Linked DNA regions of Homo sapiens. The protein of the gene in region 1 interacts with the protein of each later gene in a pairwise test. Each region holds a gene or a part of one and is shown in the gene's direction. Other genes may lie near its edges. The genes, in order: SKIL, VIM, OIP5 and KIF1B.

Evidence for each region.
Region 2: the proteins of SKIL (region 1) and VIM interact in binary tests that used the Homo sapiens proteins (3 or more experiments, as listed by UniProt).
Region 3: the proteins of SKIL (region 1) and OIP5 interact in binary tests that used the Homo sapiens proteins (3 or more experiments, as listed by UniProt).
Region 4: the proteins of SKIL (region 1) and KIF1B interact in binary tests that used the Homo sapiens proteins (3 or more experiments, as listed by UniProt).

The regions. Positions count from the first base shown.
Region 1 is NC_000003.12:170,388,526-170,396,479, forward strand, and holds part of SKIL (ski-like protein), read left to right. Parts: intron 1-1,697; coding exon 1,698-1,939; intron 1,940-2,510; coding exon 2,511-2,735; intron 2,736-3,733; coding exon 3,734-3,892; 3' UTR 3,893-7,954. UniProt on the Homo sapiens protein: May have regulatory role in cell division or differentiation in response to extracellular signals.
Region 2 is NC_000010.11:17,223,719-17,231,824, forward strand, and holds the start of VIM (vimentin), read left to right. Parts: upstream 1-4,522; 5' UTR 4,523-4,806; intron 4,807-5,557; 5' UTR 5,558-5,704; coding exon 5,705-6,267; intron 6,268-6,931; coding exon 6,932-6,992; intron 6,993-8,106. UniProt on the Homo sapiens protein: Vimentins are class-III intermediate filaments found in various non-epithelial cells, especially mesenchymal cells. Vimentin is attached to the nucleus, endoplasmic reticulum, and mitochondria, either laterally or terminally.
Region 3 is NC_000015.10:41,308,265-41,316,037, reverse strand, and holds the end of OIP5 (protein Mis18-beta), read left to right. Parts: intron 1-2,683; coding exon 2,684-2,765; exon of another isoform or gene 2,766-4,140; intron 4,141-6,188; coding exon 6,189-6,284; 3' UTR 6,285-6,765; downstream 6,766-7,773. UniProt on the Homo sapiens protein: Required for recruitment of CENPA to centromeres and normal chromosome segregation during mitosis.
Region 4 is NC_000001.11:10,374,570-10,382,523, forward strand, and holds the end of KIF1B (kinesin-like protein KIF1B), read left to right. Parts: intron 1-284; coding exon 285-477; intron 478-685; coding exon 686-804; intron 805-1,975; coding exon 1,976-2,018; 3' UTR 2,019-7,034; downstream 7,035-7,954. UniProt on the Homo sapiens protein: Has a plus-end-directed microtubule motor activity and functions as a motor for transport of vesicles and organelles along microtubules.

The DNA.
Region 1 (7,954 bases):
GGGCTTAATCCATCCTTTCACCTCAGCCTCCCAAGTAGCTGGGACTACAGGGATGTACCACCATGCTCGGCTAATTTTTGTATTTTTGGTGGAGTTGGGGTTTTGCCATGTTGAGGCTGGTCTCAAACTCGTGAGCTTAAGCAATCCACCTGCCTCAGCCTCCCAAAGTGTTGGGATTACTGGTGTGAGCCACCGCGCTTGGCCGTGTTAGTGTTCTTTGAAGCACAAAAGTTTTAAATGTTTATTACATCCAATTTATCTATTTTTTTCTTGTTTTAGGTATCATATCTAAGAAACTATTGCCTAATCCCAATTCCAAGAAATATTTATTTATGTATTTATTTATTTATTTATTTATTTTTGAGACAGAGTCTCACTCTGTTGCCCAGGCTGGAGTACAGTGGTGCCATCTCAGCTCACTGCAACCTCCACCTCCCGGGTTCAACCAATTTTTCTGTCTCAGCCTCCTGAGTAGCTGGGATTACAGGTGCGCGCCACCATGCCTGGCTAATTTTTTTTGTATTTTTAGTAGAGACAGAGTTTTACCATGTTGGTCAGGCTGGTGGTGAACTCCTGACCTCAGGTAATCCACCTGCCTCGGCCTCCCAAAGTGCTGGGATTATAGGCGTGAGCCACCACATCCAGCCAAGAAATTTATGTTTAAGGGTTGTAGCTCTTACATTTAGGTCTTTGATCAGTTTAGAGTTAATTTTTGTATACAGCATAAGGTCCAACCTTATTCTTTTGCATGTGGATATAGTTGTCCGTATGTTGAAAAGATTATTCTTTCCTTTTTTTTTTTTTTTGAGACGGAGTCTTGCTCTGTTGCCCAGGCTGGAGTGCAGTGGCGCTATCTCGGCTCACTGCAAGCTCCGCCTCCCAGGTTCACGCCATTCTTCTGCCTCAGCCTCCCGAGTAGCTGGGACTACAGGCGCCCGCCACCAAGCCTGGCAAATTTTTTGTATTTTTTAGTAGAGACAGGGTTTCACCATGTTAGCCAGGATGGTCTCAATCTCCTGACGTCGTGATCCGCCCTTCTCGGCCTCCCAAAGTGCTGGGATTACAGGCGTGAGCCACCGCGCCTGGCCAGAAAAGATTATTCTTTCCTGACTGAATTGCTTTGGCACCTTTGTCAACAACAATTGCCTTATAAAGTATGAGTTTTTTAAATTTCTGGACTCTGAATTCTGTTCTACTGATCTGTATGTCTATCTTTAAATCATGTCACACAGTCTTGATTTCTGTAGCTTTGTAGTAAGCTTTGAAATTGGGAATTGTGAGTCTTTCAACTTCGTTATTCTTTTTCAAGATTATTTTGCCTATTTTGGGTTTGTTGCATTTCCATATGGATTTTAGAAACTGCTTTTCAATTTCTGCAAAAAATCCAGTGGGGATTTTGATAGGGATTGCACTGATAAGTAGATCAATTTGGAGACTATTACTGTCTTAACAATATTAAGTCTTCCAATCCATGAATTTGGGATGTCTTTCCATGTATTTAGGTCTTAAATTTCTTTTAGTGATGTTTTGTAGTTTTCATTGTACTTGCACTGCTTTTGTTAAATTTATTCCTATTTTATTTGTTTTGGTCTAATTTATAAATGAAATGTTTTAAAAATTACATTTATGGATTGTTCTAGTGATTTTTTTAATGGAGTGATATTCATACTTTGTTACTTGATTTTTTTCTCTCCAAGATGCATCAATCTCAAATAATTCTACAAGTAAAAGGAAATCTGAGTCTGCCACTTGCAACTTAGTCAGAGACATAAACAAAGTGGGAATTGGCCTTGTTGCTGCCGCTTCATCTCCGCTTCTTGTGAAAGATGTCATTTGTGAGGATGATAAGGGAAAAATCATGGAAGAAGTAATGAGAACTTATTTAAAACAACAGGAAAAACTAAACTTGATTTTGCAAAAGAAGCAACAACTTCAGATGGTAAAATTGTTATCTAAATGATAGTCCATTATGAAAAGATACTTTTGTATATTGCTCTGTCGCCCAGGCTGGAGTGCAGTGGCGCAGTCTCAGCTCACTGAAACCTCCACCTCACAGGTTCAAGCAATTCTTCTGCCTTAGCCTTCCGAGTAGCTAGCATTACAGGCACGTGCCACCATGCCTGGCTAAATTTTGTATTCTTAGTAGAGATGGGGTTTCTCCATGCTGGCCAGGCTCGAACTTTTGACCTTGTGATCCACCAGCCTTGGCCTCCCAAAGTGCTGGGATTACAGGTGTGAGCCACTGCGCCCAGCCCCCCTGTATATTCTTAGTAAGAAAAGTCAAAACGAGATGCTACAAATGTACTTAAGATTATTGTTTTACACTGAAAAGCAATTTTAATATATTTTAAAATTTTTTGAGAAAATAGTTTTTTAAAATAATTACCTCTATATAGAACTGATAATGATAGCTGAATTTTAGGTATTTTCTGTGCTATGTTTTCCAGAACTGAAAATTTTAACATGGTGAAAATAAAGTAAAACTTGTATTGTGATTCTTTACATTACAGGAAGTAAAAATGTTGAGTAGTTCAAAATCTATGAAGGAACTCACTGAAGAACAGCAGAATTTACAGAAAGAGCTTGAATCTTTGCAGAATGAACATGCTCAAAGAATGGAAGAATTTTATGTTGAACAGAAAGACTTAGAGAAAAAATTGGAGCAGATAATGAAGCAAAAATGTACCTGTGACTCAAATTTAGAAAAAGACAAAGAGGCTGAATATGCAGGACAGGTAAGAATTACTGTTTGTATAATGGTGCCCTTTCAGCATGGAAATGGAAACTGTTACTTCTCTCTTTTTTTTTTTTGAGACAGAGACTGCTCTGTCGCCCAGGCTGGAGTGCAGTGGCACAATCTCAGCTCCCCACAACCTCTGCCTCCCGGGTTCAAGCAATTTTCCTGCCTCAGCCTCCTGATTGTAGCTGGGATTACAGGCGTGCGACACTATGCCCAGCTAAATTTTGTATTTTTTAGTAGAGACGGGGTTTCACCATGTTGGTCAGTCTGGTCTTGAACTCCTGACCTCATGATCTGCCCACCTCAGCCTCCCAAAATGCTGGGATTACAAGCATGAGCCACTGCACCCGGCCACCGTTACTTCTCTAATAAAGGAATTACTTTTTGTCAAGCTCAGTTTACTAAGCTAGATTTCAAAATAGATAATTCTGTTAAACATAGCTTTATGCTGTATTGTCCAAGATGATTATTTTGATGTTTGTTGCTTTTATTAGTTTAAATTTTTATCGGGTTACTGCAGTTTAGTTACCTAAATTGCTAATCTCTAGCCCTCTGAATATTATATGTTATATTATTTTAATGTAGTATATGAGCTTTCAAATCTACAAATTAACAAACAGGAACTGTTGCCTGTTATGTTCAAAAGCACTGGAGCAAAAATAAGCAATTCTCTTTTGTTAATAGAATCTCACAATTTAAGGAACATGAACAAATAACTAACATGAGCAGGCTGTGATGAGCGGTATAGTAAAGTATAGGGCATAATGAACATGAACATGCTGGATGTGTTCCTTCCTCTTGTTCCTTTGCTTTTTCTTAAATTTAGTGTCCTGTCAGATGTCAGATTAATAGTATTAGATGCTTAATGGATTTAGTATACATGAAATAGTTCGTTTTGTAAAAAGTAATTTGAAAATAGATATTTTCTATGATATGAGGATTAAATGGAAAAACAAAACAATTAAAATTGATAGCGCCTTTTAAATCACATAGTTGGCAGAACTGAGGCAGAGATTGGACCATGCTGAGGCCGATAGGCAAGAACTCCAAGATGAACTCAGACAGGAACGGGAAGCAAGACAGAAGTTAGAGATGATGATAAAAGAGCTAAAGCTGCAAATTCTGAAATCATCAAAGACTGCTAAAGAATAGAAACTGTTAAAGAGATTCATCTGTGTATTACTGACAAGGTTTTTTTTGTTTGTTGCTTGCTTTGGTAATTGAATTCTGAAGAATTTATCTGCATGACGATAACTAGGCATTCTATCCATTTGTAGATCAGAGAAAGTGAAGAGATTATATATTAGTACTTAAATTTTTACATTTTCCAAATGAATGAAAATGTATGTTTCTTTGTACTTTTTTAAAAAAATCAGCTTAGTAACAATACTATATGGTTTCAACTAGTAGGTAATCTGCTTATATTTCTAATGCAAACTTAACAATTGTGTACTTTTTAAAAGCTGCAATATGTGTTGGAAAATAGCTGTGGTCAATTTTGTTATCCATATTTCAGACTCAATTTTAGATACAATGGTGGCTTTATATTTTAAGTATATAGAGCTACTCAAGGAGTTGAATCTCCCCTTTTCTCATTAACACAATTTTTCTAAGTTGATATGGTGTACTCATTAACATACACCAAATTTACTTTTACTTTGTTCAGATTGTGGAATGAATTTCCACCAGTTCTCTTCTTTTTAATGTGTACCCTAGGAGGAATTTTACTGAGGTTATAGCATACCCCATGAGCACAGTGGGGAAGAAGAATGTGTTGTTATGTGCTGCTGCTAAACAGAAGCAGCAGTTGTAATTTGTTTTTCAGTTTAAATGTGGTTATAGTTAGATTTTTTTTTAAGCAGCAACTTTTCAAAAATAAAATGTGATAATTTCTGAACTTTTGTTTGTGTTGTTAATAGTGGTGTGAAAATATTAACGTTCTTGAGAAAAACTGATACCACTGTTGTGTATCAGTTTCTATACAATCCATAATCCTCCTGTACAGTTTTTACATGTAGTTATGAGTCTTACTAAAATTTATATAATGGACTTGTTTTCCTTTAAGTTGTAAAATGTTAAACACCTTGAAGGTTATTTTGGACTTCTGTATGTTTAAATGTTGTCTTACCAAAATTTGCACGAATGGACCATTTTCATTTACTACTTAATATCAAAATCAGGAATTTACAGTCAACTGATAGTACATGATAGGTGCATATAGGACAGTTTAGTTACCTGCTACTAAAAGATTTTTAGATAAGTTTTAGAAGATAAAGGAATTCCATAGTTTCAGGAGGGACAACATCTTCTGCACTTTTTTTTTGCACAGAAAAGTCTGTCATTCTCTAATGGCAAATTTCATATTTGTTAATTCTTGGCTCAAAATATATTAGGTAAAATTCTTAGATCTGTTTTTAAAGGGAGTTTCCTGAAACTATCATTAATTGACATTATTACCCCATGGATTTTATGGGATAATAAATGTTTTTCATGTTCTCTTATAAGATACTATGTATGAAATTACTTCAGAGAGCTATATTTATTTTAAAATAAATTAGCTAGGGTTAAGGTTATATTCTATTTCCAGCATAGAAGGTAGATAATCTAATGGTGTAGAAAGAATCACTAGGTTGTCATTTAACCAGTTATTTTCATATTTTGCTTAATAGTACATATCCAAAAAGAATTTTGTACTTCCCCAAATGTAATTTATTTACTAAATTGAGTATAACCTAAATGTGTGTTTTCTATTTTCCATTTAAATTTTGCTATATTAAGACTAATTTAATTCGTTGAGTCTTGGAATCTTCTCAAGGAGGAACAAATATTAAAATGACATGTAGAAACAAATTTTTTTTTTTTTTTTTTTTTTTTTTTTTTTGAGACAGAGTCTCGCTGTCTCCCAGGCTGGAGTTCAGTGGTGCAATCTCGGCTCACTGCAAGCTCTGCCTCCTGGGTTCAAGCCATTCTCCTGCCTCAGCCTCCCGAGTAGCTGGGACTACAGGCACCCACCACCACTCCCGGCTAATTTTTAGAAACAAATATTTAAAATGACATATTCTCCCAATACAATCTATTTAGATCTGGAGAAGGAAAAATCAGATATTTATGATATAGTTTTATTTTAATTTTGAATTATTTGTGTCACAGCTCAGCTTTTTGGAAGACAAACTCAAACACCTATAATTTCATTTATATTTCTAATTCACTTGGAACCTTTCTGCTTTATGTTACCTAGAAAATGATAATTTGTTTAACCCAAAACTTCTAAAATAAATTGCTTAATCCTTGAAATATGTTATTGGAAAATTTTAAGCAGTGCTTAAACACCATTAAATTATTATGAACTTGTAATTCAGAATTGAGTAAAGAAATATTTTTTCTAGTCCTTCATATATTGAAAACTTGCCACATGACATTGTATCGTCTTCATTTTCCAGAAGATGCGTTGGTGTGCCATAGGTTTCTAACTTCCTTGAAAATAGTTTTTTAAGTCAATTGTAAATATACGTATTATTGTTAAAAGTAACTTTAAACTGCAACACATAGCTTCAAAACAATATAGAGATTTTGTAATACCTTATAAGTGGAGTTGGCTAAAATACCTTATCCATATAAAACTTATTCTATTCTTTGCATGCTTATTTTGTGTGTTGGTTGCTAGCTTAAAGTTTGATTTGTTGTTACTCTTTGTGTGCCAAATTCACTAGGCAAGCGGATTTTTCCTCAGACTTCAAAAAATAATTCTTTTAAGAAAAAATGTAAAAATGTTTATTCTAAAAAGCTGCATTAAAGGGACAACCTATAAAAAGTTTTGCTAGCTCATCTTTAGAAGGAAGAAAGAATATTAGCTTGGGTGATGTTTAATTTGGGTGGCGATAGTTTCTGTAGGCTAAACTTTATGAGAAAAGTGTACCTACTCTATAAAGGTAATAAATGTAAAACCTCTTGCTGTTATTGAGGAAGCTCTTCAACTACCCTAAATTTCACAAATGTAACTTATAACACTATGAAAAGATTTGACCAACAATTTACGTTTGCTGTGTGCTTTAGTTTTTGTTTAAGCATATTCTTTTGCTTGAATTTCTGTGTTCATGAGAGTTAGGGTGTTTTATGCTTCTTGAACTAATTTTATAACATATTTAATATATTACCAGTTAAGATATAAAATCATTTGTACATAGCGAATTGTAAAGCAGCTATTAAAGTAGGTGAAATAAAGTATATATTTGCCGGTTATCCATATCTTTTAGAAGTCCTGACAGAACAACCAGTTTATTTGCACATAGGTAGCTTCTGTTTGAAGGAAGGTAAAGTTATAAGGAAACTCAAATACTATAAGATGTGTCAAGGTATTTCTCCAGAATTAATTGCAAAGCTAGTGCTGAAGGATTTTAATCAGCTTCTAAAATTTTCTTCTCAATAAGGCATATGTTTTGATTACTTAGGGAAGATTCCTCATTTTTATTTGCCCTTTATGCATTTAATCCACATGATAGGACATTAAAAATTAATATAAAGAAAAATCGTGCTCATACTGTACATCTGTTTCTGTGCTTGGAACTACTTGTTAATAGTTTTTATCGAAGCTGTCAGCAATAAGGGACATAAAACTGCTGTATTATACATTGTGGAATTGAATAAACAGCCTAATTTTTTTTTTCTAGTATAGGGTACTTAAGCATTTCCACTTTTGGAAGAAAAGTGTATTAGTATTTTATATTGCATTTCATTTAAAAGGACAGTTTTTTTTTTTTTTTTGTAAATCCATTCATTGAAATGGTTTCTAAACTGTATAATGTAATTTGGAGCCTATTTAGTAATAGAATTAAATGTCCTATGTAGTGCTACAATTTTTGAATTAGAAAGTGATCAAATGTAAGAAAAAAATTTAAAAATTCAGCCCAGAAAACAAAATAGTGTATTAAATTAGTTTAATGTAAAAGGAATTTATAAGATTTTTTTCCTCAATATAGATACCTCACTTGAAAAGAAAGCACAGCATACTTAAAGTAGTTCTAGTAAACATGTCCTAGAAAACAGTTGCTAAATGTAGGACATCTTTTGAGGAATTAGTTTATGAGAAATAAAATTTTACTTGTTTTTACTATCCTGTTAGAAGTATTTGTTTATCCTGATAATTTTAAGCCAACATAGTAGTCTTAAATTACTTTTGAATTTCTAATCTGTGAAGGCAGTAAATGAAATATCTGT
Region 2 (8,106 bases), on another chromosome or scaffold:
CTTTACGAGTATTGTCTCTCTGTATCATATACATATACGCAGACTCAACACTATGTTCCAAGAGGCTTTGGGCCATACCTGCTTTGGTCCCTTCCCCAGTGTCTACCAGACTGCCCGGCACATGGCAAATACTCAATAAGTATGTTTGGAGTAAAAGAATAAAAGTTGTGTATCACGATACCTTGTGAAGATTAAATGCAGTCATGTCTAAAGTGACTAGCACAATGCTTAAACATAATAAGCACCAGTAAATATTAGCCCCACACCTATATTTCTTCCTTCTATGAACTACTCATGTATTAATGTATATATTCGACAGATGTGCCTGGCTTTTCTCTAGCCACTGGAAATACAATAGTCAACAAAAGAGAGAAAAATTCCTACCTGCCCTTAGGGAGATTACATTCCAGTGAGGAAATGAGCAATTCCTGCCAAGAAGTTTAAAGAAGGAAGTTTTTGGCCAAATGTGGAGGCTCACACATTTAATCCCAACATTTTGGGAGGCCAGTGCTGGAGGATTGCTTGAGCCCAGGAGTTCAAGACCAGCTTGGGCAACATAGCAAGACCCTGGCTCTACAAAAAATAAAAAGTTAGCTGGGCATGGATGGCACTCCCAGCTTCTAGGGAGGCTGAGGCAGTAGGAATACTTGAGCTCAAGAGTTAAGAGGCTGCAGTGAGCTATGACTGCGCCACCGCACTCCAGCCTAGGCAACAGAGCAAGCCTTTGTCTCTCTCTCTCTCTCTCTCTCTCTCTATATATATATATATAAGTTTTAAAGAAAAAGGGGTGATGGCTTGAAGATAGATGCATTGGTGGCAGAAAAGAAAGCATGGAGGGGCCGGGCGCAGCGGCTCACACCTGTAATCCCAGCACTTCGGGAGGCCAAGGCGGGTGGATCACGAGGTCAGGAGATTGAGACCATCCTGGCTAACACGGTGAAACCCCGTCTCTACTAAAAAAATACAAAAACTTAGCCGGGCTTGGTGGCGGGCGCCTTTGGTCCCAGCTACTGGGAAGGCTGAGGCAGGAGAATGGCGTGAACCTGGGAAGCGGAGCTTGCAGTGAGCCGAGATCGCGCCACTGCACTGCAGCCCCGGGGGACAGAGCGAGACCCCGTCTCAAAAAAAAAAAAAAAAAGAAAAGAAAGAAAGCAAGAAAGCATGGAGGAACGGAAGCCAATTGCAGTATTGCAGGAAGGAGGTATGAAATGGCTTGGATCTGAGTGACAGCAACGTAACAGAGGAGTGGATCCAGGAAGAGCGGGGCATGATACCCATTGGATCTGAGATGGAAGAGTTAGTTAGGAAGTGGCAATGATGAAAGTTTCCAATCTTGTTGTTTTGCTGTATTGCCCTGAATAGACAGGGAAGCTGGCAGGGGAAGCGATGGTGGTTCATGGGCTTTAGGGCGTGAGACGAGCTAAACCCAGTCTTGAATGTGATTCCTCCTAAGAGGCAAAATGGAATCTAAATGAAAATTTTTAACTCACTAATGAAAGTAATGTTTTAGAATGCAGGTGAAAACAAATCTCCCTTCTTACATAGTATGATCACTGTTACGTCATTTGATTTTGTTTTTTACATCATTTTACATCGTAAACATGGTGTTATAGCTGTCTGCCAAATTCCTCTAAAAATATGCCCCTTCGCAGCAAGATCTGTGTTAATCATCCCATCTCTTCAGTTCCTGGAACACAGTAGGTCCCTAAATGATAAGTCCAGCACTTAATATTTGTGAATTGAACTGGTTGATAGTAAGCAAAATTTTGTTATCAAGGCAAACAGAAAAGAGAAGTGCATTTAGAGTCAGAAAGGCCTCGATTCAAATTCTTGTCCCCTTCTTCCCACCCCTGCTAGTCATACAACCACAAGAAAATTGCTAGCCTGCATCTTAGGCTCCTCATTAGTGAAATGGATGATCAAGTCTATCTTGCAGGAGGGTGTGAGTGCATCAAGTTAAATTAAATATATACACAGTGTCTGTCATTCAGTTGGCATCGACATTACCTATTATACTATTTATTATTATTACCTGTATTTCCATGGATTTTAGGTTTTGCTATGGTTTTCATGCTCTCAGTGTACCCTCCTTCTTCTTTCTAACATTCCATCCAAACAGTCCTGCTAGATGCTGTTCTCTTGGCATGGCTAGCCAGCTTTCCCAAAGCCTCCATAGGCCACTAAGCTTCTGTCCACACGGCTGGCTGGTCCGTCAGTTTAAGTCACCCAATTCAACTGACATCATGACAGCTTGCAAATTCCAAAATCACTGTTGGTAATTTAGATGTGGTAGTGTTTATGCCTGGCCTATGAATTATACCACCACGTCTTTATTTATATGCAACTTGCATCATGCTGTGTTGAAAGCAGCTTCCCAGTCCAGCACTTGAAAATACTTCTCAGATAGGTTTTCATAGCAATTAAAAAATAAACACAAAACCCGGGAAAGCTATGTCTGTGTACCCAAAAGATACCTAAGAACACAGTAGCATAGAGAGCAGGCTGAGTTGTCTCACTCAAGGATGTGAGTTCAGATTCATTGATCTCCCTGACTGAAAACTATCACCCATTGATTGAGGCACTGTATATCTTATCTCAGAATGAAATGAATTCTTAAGTCTCATGAATTCTACATGAATGAATGAAAGTGTTTCTGCAACTTTCACTTCTCTTGCAGCCCACCAAAAACAATGGCATTTTCTAATAGGAAAAACACATTGAACGCTGTATATGTGCGTATGTATATGTGTGTGTAGTACATACATATACTTTATTTTGAGACAGGTTCTCACTCTGTTGCACAGGGTGGAGTGCAGTGGTGTGCACAGCCTACTGCAGCCTCAATTTCCCAGGCTCAAGCAATCCCCCTGCCTTAGTCTCCCAAGTAGCTGGGACCACAGGTGTGCACCATCACGCCTGGCTTTTTTTGGTTTCATATATATATGTTGCCTAAGCTGGTCTCAAACTCCTGATCTCAAGCAATCCTCCTGCTTTGGCCTCCCAAAGTGCTGGGACTACAGAACACCTACACTTTTATACATTCTATATGCATCAAACAAACATATGTCTGTGACAAGAGAGCAGCCTATCACAGCCCAGAGACTTCAGAATGGGGACAGGTTGGAAGGAGGAGCTACCTATCCCTGAGATGATGAAGAGGACCAGTGCCCATTCCAGGAGACATCACCGCAGCCCTGAGGAATCGGCTATGGGCACCAGCAGGGCACAGTGCCACACCTCGCCAATGCCTTGTCCTCCTTTTCCATAGTGAGTCAGTCAGCAAGCGTCGCATTGCCCTGGGATCGGCACTGCACGTAGAAGTGAGTTCCACACTCTCTTCCTCCCATAGGGAGATCACTTTTCTCATTCTAAGGGTTCCAGGCACACTCACAATGGTGGCATTTGCTGAGCAGTGGCTTGAATAAAGGGCTCTCAGAAAGCAAGATGTAACTCAGAGCATAGGCTTGTCCTCCAGGGCACCCAGCCCCAGGAATGCTCTTGGGGAATGACCTGCAGCCTCCCAGTGAAAGAGAGAATAAAAGAAAGCCCCAGCAGGCGAGCTGGGCAGTAGAGAGTCCTGTAATTCCACCTTGGCAAGCACCATTTGCAAGAACGAACTGGGATAAGGTAAACAAAATATTGCCTAAAAGAGGCTTGTCCAAAGAAGTCAGAATACGCTCTTCATTTACCTCTAAATTATGTTTCTTAAATACCAAGTAACCTGCAGTACCCCCTGCCGCCACCAAAAAAAAAGAGAGAAATACTTTTTTTTCTCCTATCCACTGCAGAATCAATTTTACAGTGGTTCTGCAGTTAATCCTTTCAGTACACCATAAATCTAAATACTCAAAAAAACCTGTGCCTTTTCAATTGCTACTAAATCACGAGAAGACTGATTTACATAGTCTCCTTTTATCTCCCTTGGCGGGTAAGTACTCAGCTCTGCTCGTTACTAATATTGAAACAACAGCCCTTGAATTGAGTGATTTCCCTAGAAAGGTTAAGGTGACCGAATCTGAACACTCCCTCCATGTCTTGGACACGAAGTTTTTTGCTGCGTAGACAGTTTTATCCCCCTCACCCCAAGGTCAATTGCACGAATTCTTTTGGAAAACAGGACCTATGGCATTTCCCAGACAAATCACCGTGAACCCTGTACTGTGCATTGCTGTCCTAAAATTAACACATAAATCTATTGCCGCCAAAGATTCTGTCATTTGTGTTACATAATTGCCTTTCATTTGAACTCATTAATCAAATTGGGGTTTTTAAGCAACACCTAATTAATTCTTTAACTGGCTCATATTATACCTTTAATGACTTCCACCAGGGTAAAAACCACTGATCACTGAGTTCTATTTTGAAACTACGGACGTCGAGTTTCCTCTTTCACCCAGAATTTTCAGATCTTGTTTAAAAAGTTGGGTGTGGTTTCATGGGGGGAGGGGGAAGAGCGAGAGGAGACCAGAGGGACGGGGGCGGGGACTCTGCAAGAAAAACCTTCCCGGTGCAATCGTGATCTGGGAGGCCCACGTATGGCGCCTCTCCAAAGGCTGCAGAAGTTTCTTGCTAACAAAAAGTCCGCACATTCGAGCAAAGACAGGCTTTAGCGAGTTATTAAAAACTTAGGGGCGCTCTTGTCCCCCACAGGGCCCGACCGCACACAGCAAGGCGATGGCCCAGCTGTAAGTTGGTAGCACTGAGAACTAGCAGCGCGCGCGGAGCCCGCTGAGACTTGAATCAATCTGGTCTAACGGTTTCCCCTAAACCGCTAGGAGCCCTCAATCGGCGGGACAGCAGGGCGCGGTGAGTCACCGCCGGTGACTAAGCGACCCCACCCCTCTCCCTCGGGCTTTCCTCTGCCACCGCCGTCTCGCAACTCCCGCCGTCCGAAGCTGGACTGAGCCCGTTAGGTCCCTCGACAGAACCTCCCCTCCCCCCAACATCTCTCCGCCAAGGCAAGTCGATGGACAGAGGCGCGGGCCGGAGCAGCCCCCCTTTCCAAGCGGGCGGCGCGCGAGGCTGCGGCGAGGCCTGAGCCCTGCGTTCCTGCGCTGTGCGCGCCCCCACCCCGCGTTCCAATCTCAGGCGCTCTTTGTTTCTTTCTCCGCGACTTCAGATCTGAGGGATTCCTTACTCTTTCCTCTTCCCGCTCCTTTGCCCGCGGGTCTCCCCGCCTGACCGCAGCCCCGAGACCGCCGCGCACCTCCTCCCACGCCCCTTTGGCGTGGTGCCACCGGACCCCTCTGGTTCAGTCCCAGGCGGACCCCCCCCTCACCGCGCGACCCCGCCTTTTTCAGCACCCCAGGGTGAGCCCAGCTCAGACTATCATCCGGAAAGCCCCCAAAAGTCCCAGCCCAGCGCTGAAGTAACGGGACCATGCCCAGTCCCAGGCCCCGGAGCAGGAAGGCTCGAGGGCGCCCCCACCCCACCCGCCCACCCTCCCCGCTTCTCGCTAGGTCCCTATTGGCTGGCGCGCTCCGCGGCTGGGATGGCAGTGGGAGGGGACCCTCTTTCCTAACGGGGTTATAAAAACAGCGCCCTCGGCGGGGTCCAGTCCTCTGCCACTCTCGCTCCGAGGTCCCCGCGCCAGAGACGCAGCCGCGCTCCCACCACCCACACCCACCGCGCCCTCGTTCGCCTCTTCTCCGGGAGCCAGTCCGCGCCACCGCCGCCGCCCAGGCCATCGCCACCCTCCGCAGCCATGTCCACCAGGTCCGTGTCCTCGTCCTCCTACCGCAGGATGTTCGGCGGCCCGGGCACCGCGAGCCGGCCGAGCTCCAGCCGGAGCTACGTGACTACGTCCACCCGCACCTACAGCCTGGGCAGCGCGCTGCGCCCCAGCACCAGCCGCAGCCTCTACGCCTCGTCCCCGGGCGGCGTGTATGCCACGCGCTCCTCTGCCGTGCGCCTGCGGAGCAGCGTGCCCGGGGTGCGGCTCCTGCAGGACTCGGTGGACTTCTCGCTGGCCGACGCCATCAACACCGAGTTCAAGAACACCCGCACCAACGAGAAGGTGGAGCTGCAGGAGCTGAATGACCGCTTCGCCAACTACATCGACAAGGTGCGCTTCCTGGAGCAGCAGAATAAGATCCTGCTGGCCGAGCTCGAGCAGCTCAAGGGCCAAGGCAAGTCGCGCCTGGGGGACCTCTACGAGGAGGAGATGCGGGAGCTGCGCCGGCAGGTGGACCAGCTAACCAACGACAAAGCCCGCGTCGAGGTGGAGCGCGACAACCTGGCCGAGGACATCATGCGCCTCCGGGAGAAGTAAGGCTGCGCCCATGCAAGTAGCTGGGCCTCGGGAGGGGGCTGGAGGGAGAGGGGAACGCCCCCCCGGCCCCCGCGAGAGCTGCCACGCCCTTGGGGATGTGGCCGGGGGGAGGCCTGCCAGGGAGACAGCGGAGAGCGGGGCTGTGGCTGTGGTGGCGCAGCCCCGCCCAGAACCCAGACCTTGCAGTTCGCATTTCCTCCTCTGTCCCCACACATTGCCCAAGGACGCTCCGTTTCAAGTTACAGATTTCTTAAAACTACCACTTTGTGTGCAGTTGAAGGCCCTTGGGCACAATGAGAGCCAGTCCTCCAAACTTTCAGAAAGTTTCCTGCCCCTTCTGGCAGGCTGCCAATCACCGGGCGGGAGAAGGAAGGAGGGGAAGGCGGTGGAGGGAGCGAGACAAAGGGATGGTCCCTCGGGGGCGGGGATGGCGGGGCTGTCCTGTAGGTCTGTGCGGCCACCGTGATTGCCCCTCTGCGCGGTGCCCGAAGTCCCGCTGAAACCTGCCGAGGGCAGCAGGTCTGAAAGCTGCAGGCGCTAGTTGCGCGGAGGTGGCGCAGCTGCTCTGGAGGCGCAGAGCGAATACGTGGTGTTTGGGTGTGGCCGCCCCGCCCCTGGCGGTTTCCTCGTTCCCCTTTGGTTAATGCGCAACTGTTTCAGATTGCAGGAGGAGATGCTTCAGAGAGAGGAAGCCGAAAACACCCTGCAATCTTTCAGACAGGTTTGTAGACTCTCTTCCCACTCGCAGCCGCCTGACCCCACCCAACACAACCCACGAGCAATTCTAAAAGTTGCTTAACTCACGTCTAAAAAGTGCAAAACTTCAGGGCTGCGCGTAAAGCCCTCTAGTGGCGGGAAGACCACAGGTTGGAGCTTCTCATGATTAGAAAAATATTAATAAAACCCCTTGAGCGATTTTTTTTTTTTTTTTGAGACGGAGTCTTACTCTGTCGCCCAGGCTGGAGTGCAGTGGCGAGATCTTGGCTCACTGCATCCTCCGCCTCCCGGGTTCAAGCGATCCTTGAATGATTTCTAAGCAGTTCCTTGGGACATAAAGAAAAATCTTTTAACTTTTTACTTTGTTTCCCAAATGTTGCACAGTTTTGCAACACATTGACCTTCTGGTTTCGAACGGTTACAATTTTAGATTGTGGTTTGCCAAAGTCAAGTTGCTTAATTTTTACAAGGCCACAAAAAGCGCAATTATGCCCTGCAGTTTAAAATGGAAAACGTGTTGGAAGATAAGAAAACTTAGTTTCCAACTGGAATGGAGCCAGCAAGTTTCTTTTCTTCTTTGCAAATTCTATTGTGTCATTAAAGTTCGATGGAAGTATCACTATGCACAACTATTTTGTGATCTAATAAGGGTGAAAAGGAGCCATCTGTCCCCTTGGCTAAGGGGTATTAATGGTTTCTATGGGCTTCACTATGGAATGTAGATACAGACATTCTGGCAAATGTGGTGGCTCTGGACAGAAATAATAGGAGTCTTTGTATTCCCAGGGAAGCTTTGCAACAGGCTACATTCTTACTGAATATGTAATGATGTAAGCACGGTTCTAATTGGACACAAGTATTTGCTAACATCCGTTATCTAATATCTGGCCCAGACTTGAGAAGTAGGTAATGTAAAAAGTTTTTAAAGCTACAAGCATACCTCACATTTTAAAAGTCCTTTCTTGATTGGGTTCTTGTGTTCTTTAGCACTCTTGCCATAAAAAATAATAACAGTAATAAACCCAAGGCTGAAAAACTGAATTTTAACTAAAGGGTTTTTGTGCGTGTTTTTTTTTTTTTTCACCAAAATTAGATGGACTTACAGAATTTTTAACTTA
Region 3 (7,773 bases), on another chromosome or scaffold:
TCCTGCCTCAGCCTCCCGAGTAGCTGGGACTACAGGCGCCCGCCACCATGTCTGGCTAATTTTTTTGTATTTTTAGTAGAGACGGGGTTTTACCGTGTTAGCCAGCATGGTCTTGATCTCCTGCCTTGGCCACCTAAAGTGCTGGGATTACAGGTGTGAGCCACTGCGCCACCAATTTCTAGATTCTTAAGCAATTTCTATTTAGAATTAACTTTAAAGTGGGAAAAAAAACTGTAAATGTGTGCTGTTAGTAATCCCACATCTTTTTTAGAAATCAGTACAAAAGTAAATGTTCTAGAGAAGCAATAATTGCATTTTTGTTAGGGCAGTAAGCTTTTAGTAACATATTTTTAACATAAATTTGAAAAGCATTATGGGATTTTGGTTAATTTCTTAATCTTTAAAATGAGTTGGATAAAAGGTCAGGACATTCTTTTTGATTAAGTAGAAACTTTGGCCTTTTCCTCTTGGATTCGGGATGGCTGCTGCAATTACAGTCATTACATCTATTGATGATAGCATCCTAAACATGAAGGAAAAGGATATGGAGAGTATGGGAACACAAGAAAATTCCCCCTTTTCATCAGCATAAATTTTTTTTTTTTTTTTGAGACAGAGTCTTGCTCTGTCACCCAAGTTGGAACACAGTGGTGTGATCTCAGCTCATTGCAACCTCCGCCTCCCAGGTTCAAGTGATTCTCCTGCCTTGCCTCCCAAGCAGATGGGACCACAGGTGCGCTCCACCACAGCCTGCTAATTTTTGTATTTTTATTAGAAATGGGGTTTTACCATGTTTGCCAGGCTGGTCTCAAACTCCTGACCTCAGGTGATCCCCCCGCCTCGGCCTCCCAAAGTGCTGGGATTACACGCATAAGCCACTGCGCCCCGCCAGCATAAATTTTCTTAATCTTTTTTTTATTCTTTTTTTTTTTTTTTTTGAGACAGGGTCTCACTGTCACACAGGCTGGAGCGATCATGGTTCACTGCAGCCTCAACCTTTTGGGTTCAGGTGATCCTCCCAACTCAGCCTCCCAAGTAGCTGGGACTACAGGCATGCCACCACATCTGGCTAATTTTTGTATTTTTTGTAGAGATGGGGTTTCGCTGGCCAGGCATGTTGGCTCACAGCTGTAATCCCAGCACTTTGGGAGGCTGAGGCAGGCGGATCACTTGAGGTCAGGAATTCAAGACCAGCCTGTCCAATATGGTGAAACCCTGTCTCTGCTAAAAATACAAAAATTAGCTGGGCATGATGGTGGGCACCTGTAATCCCAACTGCTTGGGAGGCTGAGGCAGAAGAATTGCTTGAACCTGGAAGGCGGAGGTTGCAGTGAGCCGAGATCTCGCCATTGCACTTCAGCCTGGGTGACAGAGTAAGACTCTGTCTCAAAAAAAAAAAAAAGAGATGGAGTTTCGCTATGTTGCCCAGGCTGGTCTCAAATTTCTGATGTCAAGCCATCTGCCTGCCTCAGCCTCCCAAAGTGCTGGGATTATAGGTGTGAGCCAGCACACCCATCCCATTTTCTTACCCTTGTTGGCCAGAACTATGTCACATGATCACCTCATCTGAGAAAGCAAATATGTAACAGTAGGCTCATGGCAAAAATCTGGATTCTGTTGGCAATAAAGAAGTGAGGAAGGCTGGGCTCGGCTCACGCCTATAATCCCAGCACTTTGGGAGGCCCAGGCAGGGGGATCACCTGAGGTCAGGAGTTCGAGACCAGCCTCGCCAACATGGTGAAACCCCATCTCTACTAAAAATACAAAAATTAGCTGGGCGTGGTGGCGCAAGCCTGTAATCCCAGCTACTCGGGAGGCTGCGGCAGGAGAATCGCTTGAACCCAGGAGGCAGAGGTTGCAGTGAGCTGAGATTGTACCACTGCACTCTAGTCTGGGCAACAGAGCGAGACTCCATCTCAAAAAAAAAAAGTGAGGAACAGCTACTGGGAATAGGTGACCAACACTATGTCTCATACTGGGATTACTTTCTTTCAAACTGTGCTACAGGATCCTACTGATGAAGTGTAAAGCTTATAATCATCGTAATTATTCATATGAGCCTGGTTTTTGTCTTTAATTTACCCTGAGATAATTTTGTCTCTGGTGGGATGCGGCAGAGATCCTCTCCAATTTGTTTATTTTTGAATTTGTTTTTCCAAGAAAATGCAGTCATCCTTCAGTATCTGTGGTTCCAGGACCTCACCAGATACCAAAATCCATGGACACTCAAGTTTCTGATATTAAGTGGTGTAATATTTGCATATTACTTTTGGATATCCTCCTTTTTAAAGTATAAAAGTATATATTTTATACTTTAAAATAATCTCCAGATTACTTATGACAGCTAACGTAATGTAAATGCTATGTACATTACAAATTTACATAGGAAATTTACAAAGTTGTTGTAATGTTAAGGGAATGATGACAAGAAAAAGAGTGTACCTGTTCAGTACAGACACAATCCAGTTTTTTTTTCCTGAATATTTTTAGTCTGTGGTTGTTTGAATCCATGGATGCTATACCCATGGATATGGTGGGCCAACTGTAACATCATGAGTCTTGAAATGAAAATCATTAAGAAGCCAGGCTTTTTTTGACACATACTTTCTTTAGAAGGTAAGTTTGGTTCTTTTATAATCTTAACCATGGTATGACACTAATATTTTTCTTTTTTCCTATCTAGCTATCTCTTAAAAACAAAAGCCATAGTAAATGCATCAGAGATGGATATTCAAAATGTTCCTCTATCAGAAAAGATTGCAGAGGTAAAATTTCATGATGGTTGTATGCTTTTTTAAAATACAGACAACTCTTGATAACTTCTACCAATGAACTTGGGGATGATGAAATGGCATGATGCTCAATAATCCTTTTTACTTGATTTGACCTTCCCTATTGAATTTGTAATGAAAAACAAAATACTAAAACCACACTGTAAGGTATAGTTCAGGAAGAAAGGAAAAGCTGCTCAACTGCTGCACTCCTGCATTCTCCTTTGTGCTGGGAATGGATATCATCATCTTGCCATAGAGGTGTCTTCTTTGCAAATACCTTGTAATTGCTCAACTGTCTCAGACATAAGAGTGATGAAACAGTTATTAAGAATTCCTGGCCGGGCGTGGTGGCTCACGCCTGTAATCCCAGCACTTTGGTAGGCCAAGGCGAGCAGAACATGAGGTCAGGAGATGGAGACCATCCTGGCTAACACAGTGAAACCCCATCTCTATTACAAATACAAAAAATTAGCCGGGCGTGGTGGCACGTGCCTGTAGTCCCAGCTACTCGGGAGGCAGAGGCAGGAGAATTGCTTGAACTGGGAGGTGGAGGTTGCAGTGAGCTGAGATTGCGCCACTGCATTCCAGCCTGGGCAACAGAGCAAGACTCTGTCTCAAAAAAAAAAAAAAAAAAAATTTAGCCGGTCATGGTGGTGGGCGCCTGTAATCCCAGCTACTTAGGAGACTGAGGCAGGAGAATCGCTTGAACCCAGGTGGTGGAGGTTGCAGTGAGCCGAGACTGCGCCACTGCACTCCAGCCTGGGCAACAGAGCGAGACTGCGTCTCAAAAAAAAATAATTCTTGCCTGGGCGTGGTGGCTCACGCCTGTAATCCCAGCACTTTGGGAGGCTGAGGCGGATGGATAACCCGAGATCAGTAGTTCGAGACCAGCCTGACCAACATGGAGAAACCCTGTCTCTACTAAAAATACAAAATTAGCCGGGCGTGGTGGCACATGCCTGTAATCCCAGCTACTTGGGAGGTTGAGACAGGAGAAGCACTTGAACCTGCGAGATAGAGGTTGTTGTGAGGCAAGATCATGCCATTGCACTCTAGCCTGAGCAACAAGAGTGAAAATCTGTCTCAAAAAAAAAAAAAAGAAAAAAAGAAGGCTGGGCATGGTGGCTTATGCCTGTAATCCCAGCACTTTGGGAGGCTGAGGCAGGCAGATCACCTCAGGTCGGGAGTTTGAGACCAGCCTGACCAACATGGAGAAATCCCATCTCTACTAAAAATACAAAATTAGCCGGGCGTGTTGGCGCATGCCTATAATCCCAGCTTTTCGGGAGGCTGAGGCAGGAGAATCGCTTGAACCTGGGAGGCAGAGGTTGCAGTGAGCCGAGAGCTTGCCATTGAGAGCGAAACTCTGTGTGGAAAAAAAAAAAAAGAATTCTTATTGGCTGGGTGCGGTGGCTCACACCTGTAATCCCAGCACTTTGAGAAGCCGAGGTGGGTGGATCATGAGGTCAGGAGTTCAGCCTGGCCAAGATGGTGAAACCCCGTCTCTACTAAAACTAGAAAAATTAGCCAGGCGCAGTGGCAGGCGCCTATAATCCCAGCCCCAGCTACTCAGGAGGCTGAAGCAGGAGAATCGCTTGGACCTGGATGGCAGAGGTTGCAGTGAGCCAAGATCACGCCATTGCATTCTAGCCTGGGTGACAGTGAGAATCTATTTCAAAAATAATAATAATAATAATTGGTATGGGAAATGACTTTGGAATGGCAGTATGAGGAGTTCCATGGATAGGATCCAGGAAGAATATTATAAAGGAAACAACCATCTTAAGTCTGTGGAAATTTTCTTCAAGGTATATGGCAAATACAGAAACATTTATTTGTTTATTTATTTTTGAGACAAAGTCTCACTCTGCCTCCCAGGCTGGAATGCAGTGGCACAGTCTTGGGTCACTGCAACCCCCTCCTCCCGGGTTCAAGCGATTCTCCCACATGGAGAATCCTTGTCTCTACTAAAAATACTAAAAAGCCTCCTGAGTACCTGGGACTACAGGCGCGCACTACCGTGCCCAGATAATTTTTGTATTTTTAGTAGAGACGGGGTTTTACCATCTCTGCTAAAAATGATGGCCAGGCTGTTCTCGAACTTCCGAGCTCAGGTGACCCACCCGCCTCGGCCTACCAAACTGCTGGGATTACAGGTGTGAGTGCCAGGTTCAAGTGCTTCTGCTTCAGCCTCCCCAGTAGCTGGGAACCCAGTTGCCCTTGCCCCCAGCTTGCTTGTAGGGTGGAAATCCTATGCTGGGAGGGGCGAATGGAGATTATCAGAAGCCACTGCTCTTGCCCTGCTGAGTAACAACACTAAATTTCATGCTAAATATAGCTGTAAGAACTCTTAAAAATTACCTAATTGCAACAGTTATCTGTTCTAAACCTAATAACCAGAGTTAACTTTGCAGACCATTAGTAGAATGTTAAAGTCAGAGAGGCATTTGTTACTGTTAACAAAGTGTTAAAAGAAAAGCTAAATTCTTGCCACTGGAAAAGGAGGAGAAGCCTGTCTCCACAAAGCACTGTGACCAGACTTTATTCATCTTCACAGTAGCAGTGCTGCTCAGCAATGTTTTGTCTTTTTTCACACGAAACTTTACATCTGAGGATCTTTTTTTTTTTTTTTTTTGAGACGGAGTCTCGCTCTGTCACCCAGGCTGGAATGCAGTGGCACGATCTTGGCTCACTGCAAGCTCTGCCTCCTGGGTTCACTCATTCTCTTGCCTCAGCCTCCTGAGTAGCTGGGACTACAGGCGCCCGCCACCGTGCCCAGCTAATTTTGTTTTTGTATTTTTAGTAGAGATGGGGTTTCACCGTGTTAGCCAGGATGGTCTTGATCTCCTGACCTCGTGATCTGCCCAACTTAGCCTCCCAAAGTGCTGGGGTTAGAGGCGTGAGCCACTGCGCCTGGCCACATCTGAAGATCTTACTGTGCGCTACGTTGTTGTATAAAGTTCTTCCAGAATTAGAAGAAATTTATTCCTCAAATGCATTTAGACATTGCCAGCTCCCAATTACTAGATATAAACTAGCTTAAATTTGAAATGGTGTTTGTGACCAGCAAATTGACAGTTAAGCTTAAAATGCCCAGATATCCATCTTGGTGTGGTGGCTCATGTCTGTAATTCCAGCACTTTGGGAGGATCACTGACTGCCAGGAGTTCAACACCAGCCTGGGCAACAAAGCAAGACCCCCATCTCTACAAAGAAAATTTAAAACACATGACTGTAGTCCTAGCTAATCAGGAGGCTGAAGTGGGAGGATCACTTGAGAGCAGGAGCTTGAGGCTGCAGTGAACTATGAATGTGCCACTGTACTCCAGCTCAGGCAACAGAGTGAGACCCTGTCTCTTAAAATAAGTAAAAATAAAAAAAGATGCCCTGATATCTATATATTTCTCTTCCTAGCTGAAAGAGAAGATAGTGCTAACGCACAATCGCTTAAAATCACTAATGAAGATTCTGAGTGAAGTGACTCCTGACCAGTCCAAGCCAGAAAACTGATCCTGTACCAAAGCTTGAGTGTCAGGTTCAGGCTTTATTGCTGTCTTCAACAACAGGTGCTGCTTAGTCATTTCTTGAAAAAGATTGGCTTCAAGAATGGAGGGGAAATGCAGTTTCTATTTACCTTTAGGCTGATTTTCCAAATTATTTGTGAAGCTGTTTTTAGAAGATGAGAGACTAAGGATTCTTCTCTTTTATAGCTATTTGCCTTAAGAACTTACTTTAGATTCTTATTGAATTCATAATACTTATCTCTGAAAATGTCTTTGACTGTAAATTTAGGAATTAAGATGCAGAGTCCCATGTGTCCTCTGATCTAAAGTTGCATGGTTGGTCTGAAAATAGAGTTGGGCTTAATGTTGACTTCTATTACTCCTGCATGGAGCAGTTGTTATGAATACTAATACATCACTTTTTAACTTCTGTAAAATACAGATCATAATATTCTATAGGTAATGTTTAATAAATTGCCTGAATAATATACAATTTGTCTTTTTCAGTTGTAAACTGAGGTTAACAGAGAAATAATGAAAGCAATGATAAAACGAAACAGTTACCAAAGTACTATTTTCTATAATTTTGTTTTATGTAGCACTTTGAGTAACTTATCAAAATATTAATTTAATATATATTTGTAAAGTGTTAGACTAGGTGCTGGGGATAAAAGGTAAGCAAAAATAGACACACTATCCTTAGAATTTATAATCTAGTCAGAGAGGGACATTCAAATAATCACATAAAGATACATAAAATTACAGGCCTGGCGCAGTGGCTCACATCTATAATTCCAGATTTTCGGAGGCCGAGGCAGTGGATCACTTGAGGTCAGGAGTTCAAGACCAGCCTCGCCAACGTGGTGAAACCTCGTCTCTACTAAAAATACAAAAATTAGCCAGGCATGGTGGTGCGCACCTGTAATCCCAGCTACTCAGGAACCTGAGGCAGAAGAATTGCTTGAACCCAGCAGGTAGAGGCTGCAGTCAGCCGAGATCGTGCCACTGCACTCCAGCCTGGGCGACAGAGTGAAACTCCATCTAAAAAAAAAAAAAGATATGTAAAATTATGACGCTAGTAAGGGTTTTGAAGTAAAGGAACATAGGGATACACGCACATAAAGCAGGTAACTGACCTGGTCTGGGTTTCTGGGAAAGAAAGCCTCTGTGTAGAAGTGAAGTTTCAGCGGTGGTCTGAAAGACGAATAGGAATTAATAAGGTGATGGAGGGATGACCTTTATGAGGTCCTTAAAAGAAGGCCTGCCTAATCAAATTTACTTTTTCAGAATGTCACTGTGGTTGTCCTGTGGAAAACAGGTGGGAAGGACAGCAAGCAGACCACTAAGGAGAGCCTTTGGCACTAGCACAATCAAGAAATTACATATCCAAGTGGTGGAGGATAGAAAAGCTAACTTGGCTGGGATGTAGCTAGCAGAATATATATATATAAATTTTTTTTTTTTCTTCCCGAGATGGAGTCTTGCTCTGTCGCCCA
Region 4 (7,954 bases), on another chromosome or scaffold:
ATCTGTACTGTAGTCTGATGCAAGTTGAGTCTGGGGTGAGAGGGCCAGCCTGGGTTTCTCCAGTTGGGTCTCATAATGCATCTGCACCCTGGCGCAGCATGTTGCCATGGCACGGTTTCGCTTTTGCCGTATTACTTTGGCAGATAAGATTCTAGGCCAAATAGGTCATTTGCCTGTTTCATCGAATCTAAGGACTTGGCCTAAGTGTGGCGTATTTTGATGGTCCTCAGCACGATTATTTTCTTTTTGTGAGAAACTAACTTTTGTCATATTGTCGTTTTTAGCTCAGTGGTCTCTAAGAAAGGATACCTTCATTTCAAGGAGCCTCTTTACAGTAACTGGGCTAAACATTTTGTTGTCGTCCGTCGGCCTTATGTCTTCATCTATAACAGTGACAAAGACCCTGTGGAGCGTGGAATCATTAACCTGTCCACAGCACAGGTGGAGTACAGTGAGGACCAGCAGGCCATGGTGAAGGTCCGTCCTGCCCTGCCTTGGTTTCTTATTGCCACGTGTGCCCTTCTCTTTTGATTTCTGCACTCTCTGTTACGTGGTGTGAAATTTCCCTATTCTCTCTGGTTTTGAACTTCCTTTGTGAAGTGCTATATGCCTTGGGAATATGGCAAGGCAGTCCCCATTGCTGTCTCTGTAGTAACTTTCTTGTCTACCTGCATTTTTCTTTCAGACACCAAACACCTTTGCTGTCTGCACAAAGCACCGTGGGGTCCTTTTGCAGGCCCTCAATGACAAAGACATGAACGACTGGTTGTATGCCTTCAACCCACTTCTAGCTGGCACAATACGGTAAGAAGTTTTGTTGTTGTTGTTGTTGTTTTTGAGACGGAGTCTCACTTTTTCTCCCTGAAGTGCAGTGGCTTGGTCTTGGCTCACTGCAACCTCCGCCCCCTGGTTCAAGCGATTCTCCTGACTCAGCCTCCCCAGTAGCTGAGACTACAGGCACGTGCCACCATTGCCTGGCTAATTTTCGTATTTTTTGTAGAGACGGGGTTTTACCACAATGGCCAGGCTGGTCTCAAACTCCTGACCTCAAGTAATCCACCCACCTCAGCCTCCCAAAGTGCTGGGATTACAGGCCTGAGCCACTGCACCCAGCCTAGAAGTTGTTCTGTGTTTTCTTTCTCTCTTTGGCTTTTGGCTTCAGGAATATCAGGATAAATAGGAAAGGAAGAATTTTTCTTTTCTTTTTTCTTTTCTTGTTTTTTTTTTTTTTTTTTTTTTTTGAGATGGAGTTTTTGCTCTTGTGTGGCCCAGGCTGGAGTGCAGTGGCATGATATCGGCTCACCGCAACCTCCACCTCCCAGGTTCAAGCCATTCTCCTGCCTCAGTCTCCTGAGTAGCTAGGATTACAGGTGCCCGCCACCACACCCAGCTAATTTTTTTTTTTGTATTTTTAGTAGAGATGGGGTTTCACCATGTTGGCCAGGCTGGTCTTGAACTCCTGACCTCAGGTGATCCACCCTCCTCGGCCTCCCAAAGTGCTGGGATTACAAGCGTGAGCCACCACATCTGGCTTGAAAGGAAGTATTTTTCAAAATAAATTTAAAAGAGAGGAAGGACAGGAGTGTAAATTGGTTGTGGGGTGGTAATGAGGCCTCTGCATCTTGTAAGGCATTGTCATGTTCTGAACCACCAGGGATACTCTGGTCACACATGTGCACCAATTATTTTCCTTCTTTGTCTTTTTGTTCTCAAGAGTTCTAAAGATGGGGCTCAGGGGAGAGAGTAAAGGGAGGACAGTGAGAACCTTAATGGTCTCCCAACCTCCAGCCCTGTGATTCAGCCTCACGTTCTGAGGGCTTGTGTCACAGGGTCCCGGAGTAGACGGCTTAGAGGACTAGGCCTGCGGTGCCAAATAGGAAGATGCTCCAGGAGGGAGCCTCAGAGGGAGAGGACTGTGAGGGGACAAGACTTGTACCCAGACTTCTAATCCTACCTCCCCGTTTGTCCCCCATAGGTCAAAGCTTTCCCGCAGATGCCCGAGCCAGTCGAAATACTAAGTGACTCTGCCGAGTGCCCTCACTCGCCTTCGAGAGATAAAGAAAGCGTTACCTCTCATTTCTCTTTGTGATTCTTGACGGTGACTCTTGTATGTAATCCTGTGGCTTAACTACTTCTCCCTCCTTGTCCAGCACTTTTCTAGCTCTCCCGTTCCCCATCTCCATTGCTCTGTACTCTTTTCTTTTTTCTTGTGCTGAGAATCTCGTTAGTAGCATGTGGCCTAACAAAAGGAAAAAATGTTTTTAAACACACACACACACACACACACACACACACACATACACAGACAAAAACACAAAAACTCTGAGGGGATCTGGTGAATCTCCAAATTATTGTGGGTGTACTTTGGCTTCCTTTTGTATGATAGGTCCCCATCATGACCACCTCTGATGTCTGTGCTGCTGTCACCAGGCACCTTTGTTTTTCAAGACAACATACTTTTTTTTTCTTTTCTCTGTTTGTGATATCACTTTAATTTTTCTTGGGTGGCTTAGAGACTAAGGGAGGAGACATCTGGCCTTTTTAGAACCTGAGAGGAAAAAAAGAGTCTTTTTTTCCCCTCTGTCTCTTTTTGCCATGGCTAATCCCTGCATTTCCATTCAGGGAAAAGGTGGTAGTGAGCATAGAACTGCAACAGTTATATTCTGAGTCAAAGTTGGGGCTTTTTACGGCATAATTATGGAATTTTTATTTACTGGTAGAGAGGAGACGAGAGGCTTTTTCAGTGGGCCTGGGACAGTGGCTGCTCTTGACTTTGTGTGAAGGGAAATGCCAAGGATGCTTCTGGTGGACTTCAGGGGACCCCAGGGTTTGGCCGTGGGCCGTGATGGCAGCAGGCGGTGGGATGCTTGTAGCTCCTCACAGCAGGATTCCTGCCCACTGTTTTTTCTCTGTTGGGAGGGAAGCTCTTTTCTAGGAGTGTCTCAGTTCTGCTTTTGGCATTAGTGATGGTGGTGGTACAGTTGGAATTAGTGCCATGTCATACACAAATGTTCCACAAGGCGGGAGTGTTTCACTTTCTGGTGATAAACTTGATGGTCATTGTTATGATTAAGATAATGCCGGGCAGGCCGGGCACAGTGGCTCACGCCTGTAATCCAAGCACTTGGGGAGGCCGAGGCGGGCAGATCACGAGATCAGGAGTTCAAGACCAGCCTGGCCAATATGATGAAACCCCGTCTCTACTAAAAATACAAAATTAGTCGGGTATGGTGGCACATGCCTGTAATTCCAGCTGCTTGGGAGCCTGAGGCAGGAGAACTGCTTGAACCCAGGAGGCAGAGGTTGCAGTGAGCCAAGATCGCGCTATTGCACTCCAGCCTGGGTGACAGAGCAAGACTCTGCCTCAGAAAAAAAAAAAAATAATAATGCTGGGTAGTGACCTTGTGATTGTTACAGCTCCCTTTGATCAAAGAAATATAGCTTTCAGGCATAAACCTGGAAGTCTCCCTCTGAATCCAGCAGTTGTTTTCATTGATGCTTGTCAGGTTGAAGATGCTTTCAGTGATGCTCTCTATACTCATAAATAAGCAAATGTGGCAGGCTTTGCTTTCTGGATCCCAGGATTAAAACTAACCGTGACCACTACTCCAAACAAAACACAATATGCCTAGGGGCACGGATGAACGTCCAGGGAGCCCGGGCCCCAGGCTTTGTTGCGTGTTCCCTGCTCCTCTCCATCTGGTGTGGAAACACTGCCCAGGGAGAAAGGAGGAAGCTCACTGTGGACAGTCTTCTTTCCTTCTGACAGACCAGGTCATCTGGCTTCCGAGATCATCAGAGAAGATAAGTCTGTCTCTTTCAGCTGCCAGTAAGTTTTCCAGGATGAGAGGGGAAAAAGAAAGCCTCCAGTGACTTCAGTTGCTTTGCCAGTTGTCTTGGGATTGTTTTACACCATCCTTTACTTCCCTTGCTCAGACCTCTCTGTTTCACCATTGCTCAGGCATTCAGGAAAGTATCTGCTCACTCCCACTTGGTGAGTCCTCGGCCTTGAGGTTGCTGACTCTCAGGCGTTAGGCAGCTGGATGACTTCCCGCTTCACGCAGCAAAGGCCAGGGGCTTGCGCGCCTCTGCAGAGTTGTTGCTAGGGAGACTTGTGTCATCATCCACAACCTTGTTTCTCACTTCCTGGTTGGGCTCATCTCTGAAGAACAGGTCTCCCAGCTTCGCTCCTTATCACTGCATTGTGAAGAGGAGGAAAAGTGAATCACGGAGAGAGAAAGGAAAGGATAGAATCACAGGCTGCGTCTGCACCTGAAAAGTGACCCGCGGAAACTCTATGGCGGATTTTTTTTTTAACTTTCTTCTTCCTGTTAAAACATAGGTCACTAACTGTGATGTTATTTGTTTTCTAAGTGGTATGTGAGATTTTCTAATGTAGTTAGAAGTTTCATTGTCTGATGGACACAATATGCCCTTCCGGTTCTATTCAAACCAGCAGGATCTGTCGGTGCTTAGAGATGGCTGCCTGGACTGGAATCAAATCTAATTTCAGGGAAATGAAGATGGAATTTGAAGGTCACTTTTAAAATTAAGTCATTGATGCTGCTGTTACAGAGTGTGACAGAGGATCCATGTCTGTGACACAGGACGGTGGGAAGCCTGAGAGAGAGTGAAATTATGTGATACACTGAAATGACTTTTGTTTTTCTTCTAACTCATACAAAACTGGTTTGGAAAGTCTTTGCTTTGGAAGCGTCAGACATTAGAACAGGCCAAACTGGACTGTCTGTTCATAGCGTGCCTGAATAAGAAGGCCTCTTAGGGAGCCAGAGGGAGCAGAGTGGTCGTGTCCTGCGTGCTCTTCACCCTCTGGGGCGCCCCTGCTGCGGCTGGCAGGTGCAGACAGCCTTTGCTGGTCCCCAGCACGTCCAGGGTGGGTGCTCCCTTGCCCGACAGAACCATCCCCACTGTGAGGCTGTGAGAGATTTGTGGCAGGAACTGTTTATGAGGCTCTAGTTGTTGCTGTTGTGGCGGGAAAGTTAAGAAACATAGCCCTTAAGGAAACCACCTTTATGTATTTTCTTAAAGCACGCCTTTAAATAAGCAAAAACTTTAAAAGGCAGGAAAGAGAATTCTTAGGCAAATTCAGAGAAATAAGTGCTAGTTAATACTAATCACCTCCTCCTCTGTCTCTCATCCTCCTTTCTCCCATCAAAGCAAAATATGGCCTCACCACCAGCCCCAAATCAGTGCTCAGACCCTCTCTGTGTCTGTGTGCCCTCCTGGGAGTCAGTCAGCGCTCAGGCCAGGACTGTGCAGGGCCAGCCAGCCCATGCGCTAGTCAGGAGCACAGGCAAGGGGTGCTTGTGGCAGTGGCCGGGCACCTGAGCCCCAGCTCGTTGTTAAACGTGCTGACGGCAAGGGGCAATGGAGTGAGTTTCCCAACTAAGAAACCACTATTATATATTTTTTCCCTTCAGTCACATAGACTTCAGACAACTCTCCTATTTTTTATGGATTTTTCAGCTCATTTCAGATGAAGGAACTAAGTCATTGTGAACTGTCTCTTGAGATCTAAAAACAAGATGACTTTTCCTGGCACATATTCCAAAGCAAAGACTTTGTTGCCTGCTGCTTATTGTCTAATTTACAGGGATATTTAATTTTGTCAGGTCTATGTATATTTATCCAGCTATACTTACTTGCACAGTGGATTGGAGAGAAAGGATTCTCCAGTGTGCACACTCATCGGTACTCTTTCTGCATTTCCCTCGTGCTGTGTCCCGCTCGGGTTCCAATGGACAGTATCAGGGCTTGTTTGACTTAGGTCTTTCAGTTTTCCTTTCGGTTCCCTTTTAAAAATGTGATTGTTAACCTGCCTCTTGAAAGATTCAACCGGGTGTGGTGGCTCACGCCTGTAATCCCAGCACATTGGGAGGCCAAGGCAGGTGGATCACCTGAGGTCAGAAGTTTGAGACCAGCCTGGCCAACATGGTGAAACCCCGTCTCTACTAAAAATACAAAAAGTAGCCAGGCGTGGTGGCGTGTGCCTGTAGTCCCAGCTACTTGGGAGGCTGAGGCAGGAGAATAGCTTGAACCTGGGAGGTGGAGGCTGCAGTGAGTTGAGACTGCACCATTGCACTCCAGCCTGGGTGACAAAGCAGGACTCCGTCTCAAAAAAAAAGAAAAGATTCATGATGCTGCTGCTCCCAGAAGGTTTGCTGGATGTGTTTACATAGGACTCTAACTTGTGTGCACTACAGTTGTTCACCAGGGCCAGTGATTCACCCCAGTGTGTGGCCAGACCATGACTGTGTAGCAGGAATGTTTTAATTTGTGCTTCCTTAGTAAATTGAAATATCAGCTGAGAGATTATTTGCTGCTGTTATTCAAAAGGCCATTTATGAAGTTAGTATTTGAGCCCCATAAGATCTTTAAAAAGCCTCCAATCATTTAAAGGAAGAAATCAGAGTTGCTATAAAATTCAGTAAAAAGCTCATAGCCAAACGGCTGTGCTCAGATGGAAAGTCTGAGCTGAGGTTGGTCTCTTGCCAAACCGTGGCTGTTGTGTGTTGTTCTTCATGTCTTCGAGTTCATTTTTTTTCATTCTGCCTATTCTGGCATCAGCTCACTTGAGGAGTCCCTCAGCCTTCTTGTATTTAAGGCATCGTCTTAGACTTTGTGGCTCTAAAGTACCTGTCTGTTGAGATTTCAAGTCTCTTGTCACCATCCTCACACATGACAACAAAACCCATAATGCATAAGTGGCCTTTTTGAACCAAGACTTTGCAAACTGATCTCTCCCCCGTGAAGGAGTTGAGCACATTAGCAACAATGTACATTAATTTTGGATTTTCATTTTCATGTTTTATTTTGTAAATATTATCTGATGTTTGGAGCTTGAGTATACAGACTGTAAATATAGTTCTTGTATTTGTACTAATTCTGATTCTTTTGCTGTATAGCCTTAGATGTGCAATGCAGACACTATCTAACTGTGTGTGGTAACCTTGCGTCACGGAGCTGTTAGTGAACGAGGTAAAAATAATAAAGGTACAGCCAGTGCATCAGAAGGTTCTCGATGTGCATTTATTCTTGCACCCCTTGAAAGGTAATTGCACAAAGATTTCTTTTCTTGATTTGCAAAGATAATACCTTTCTAAGACAGAAGTCACGATATCATCGCTTAAGTATTCCTTTCTGATATTCAAAATCGTGGTTTTTATATAACCAAGAAAGCTAATATGGTGCTGTTTCTTTGAAAGTACTTTTCTCCCAAAGATGTAAGTGGTTATTTTAGCTAGAAGATTTGTTGTTTTTCTCCTGAAGCCTCCTTGTATGCCTTCCAATAATTCTGTAGTGTTGTGTTGGCTTCTTTTTTTTTTTTTTTTTCTTTTTGAGACAGAGTCTTGCTCTGTCACCCATGCTGGAGTGCAGTGATGTGATCTCGGGTCACTGCAACCTCTGCCTCCTGGGTTCAAGCGATTCTCCTGCCTCAGACTCCTGAGTAGCTGGGATTACAGGCGTGCGCCACCATGCGTGGCTAATTTTTGTATTATTATTATTATTATTATTATTATTATTTTATTTATTTATTTATTTATTTTGAGATGGAGTCTCACTCTGTCGTCCAGGCTGGAGTACAGTGGCATGATCTCGGCTCACTGCAACTTTCCACCTCCCGGGTTCAAGCGATTCTCCCTGCCTCAGCCTCCCAAGTAGCTGGGATTACAGGCATCCATCACGCCTGGCTGATTTTATTTTTAGTAGAGAGGGGTTTCACTGTGTTGGCCAGGCTGGTCTCAAGCTCCTGACCTTGTGATCCACCCGCCTCAGCCTCCCAAAGTGCTAGGATTACAGGCTTGAGCCACCGTGCCCAACCTATAATTATTTTTTTGAGATGGAGTTTGACTCTTGTCACCCATGCTGGTGTGCAATGGCACCATCTCAGCTCACTGCAACCTCTGCCTCCCCAGTTCAAACAATTCTCTTT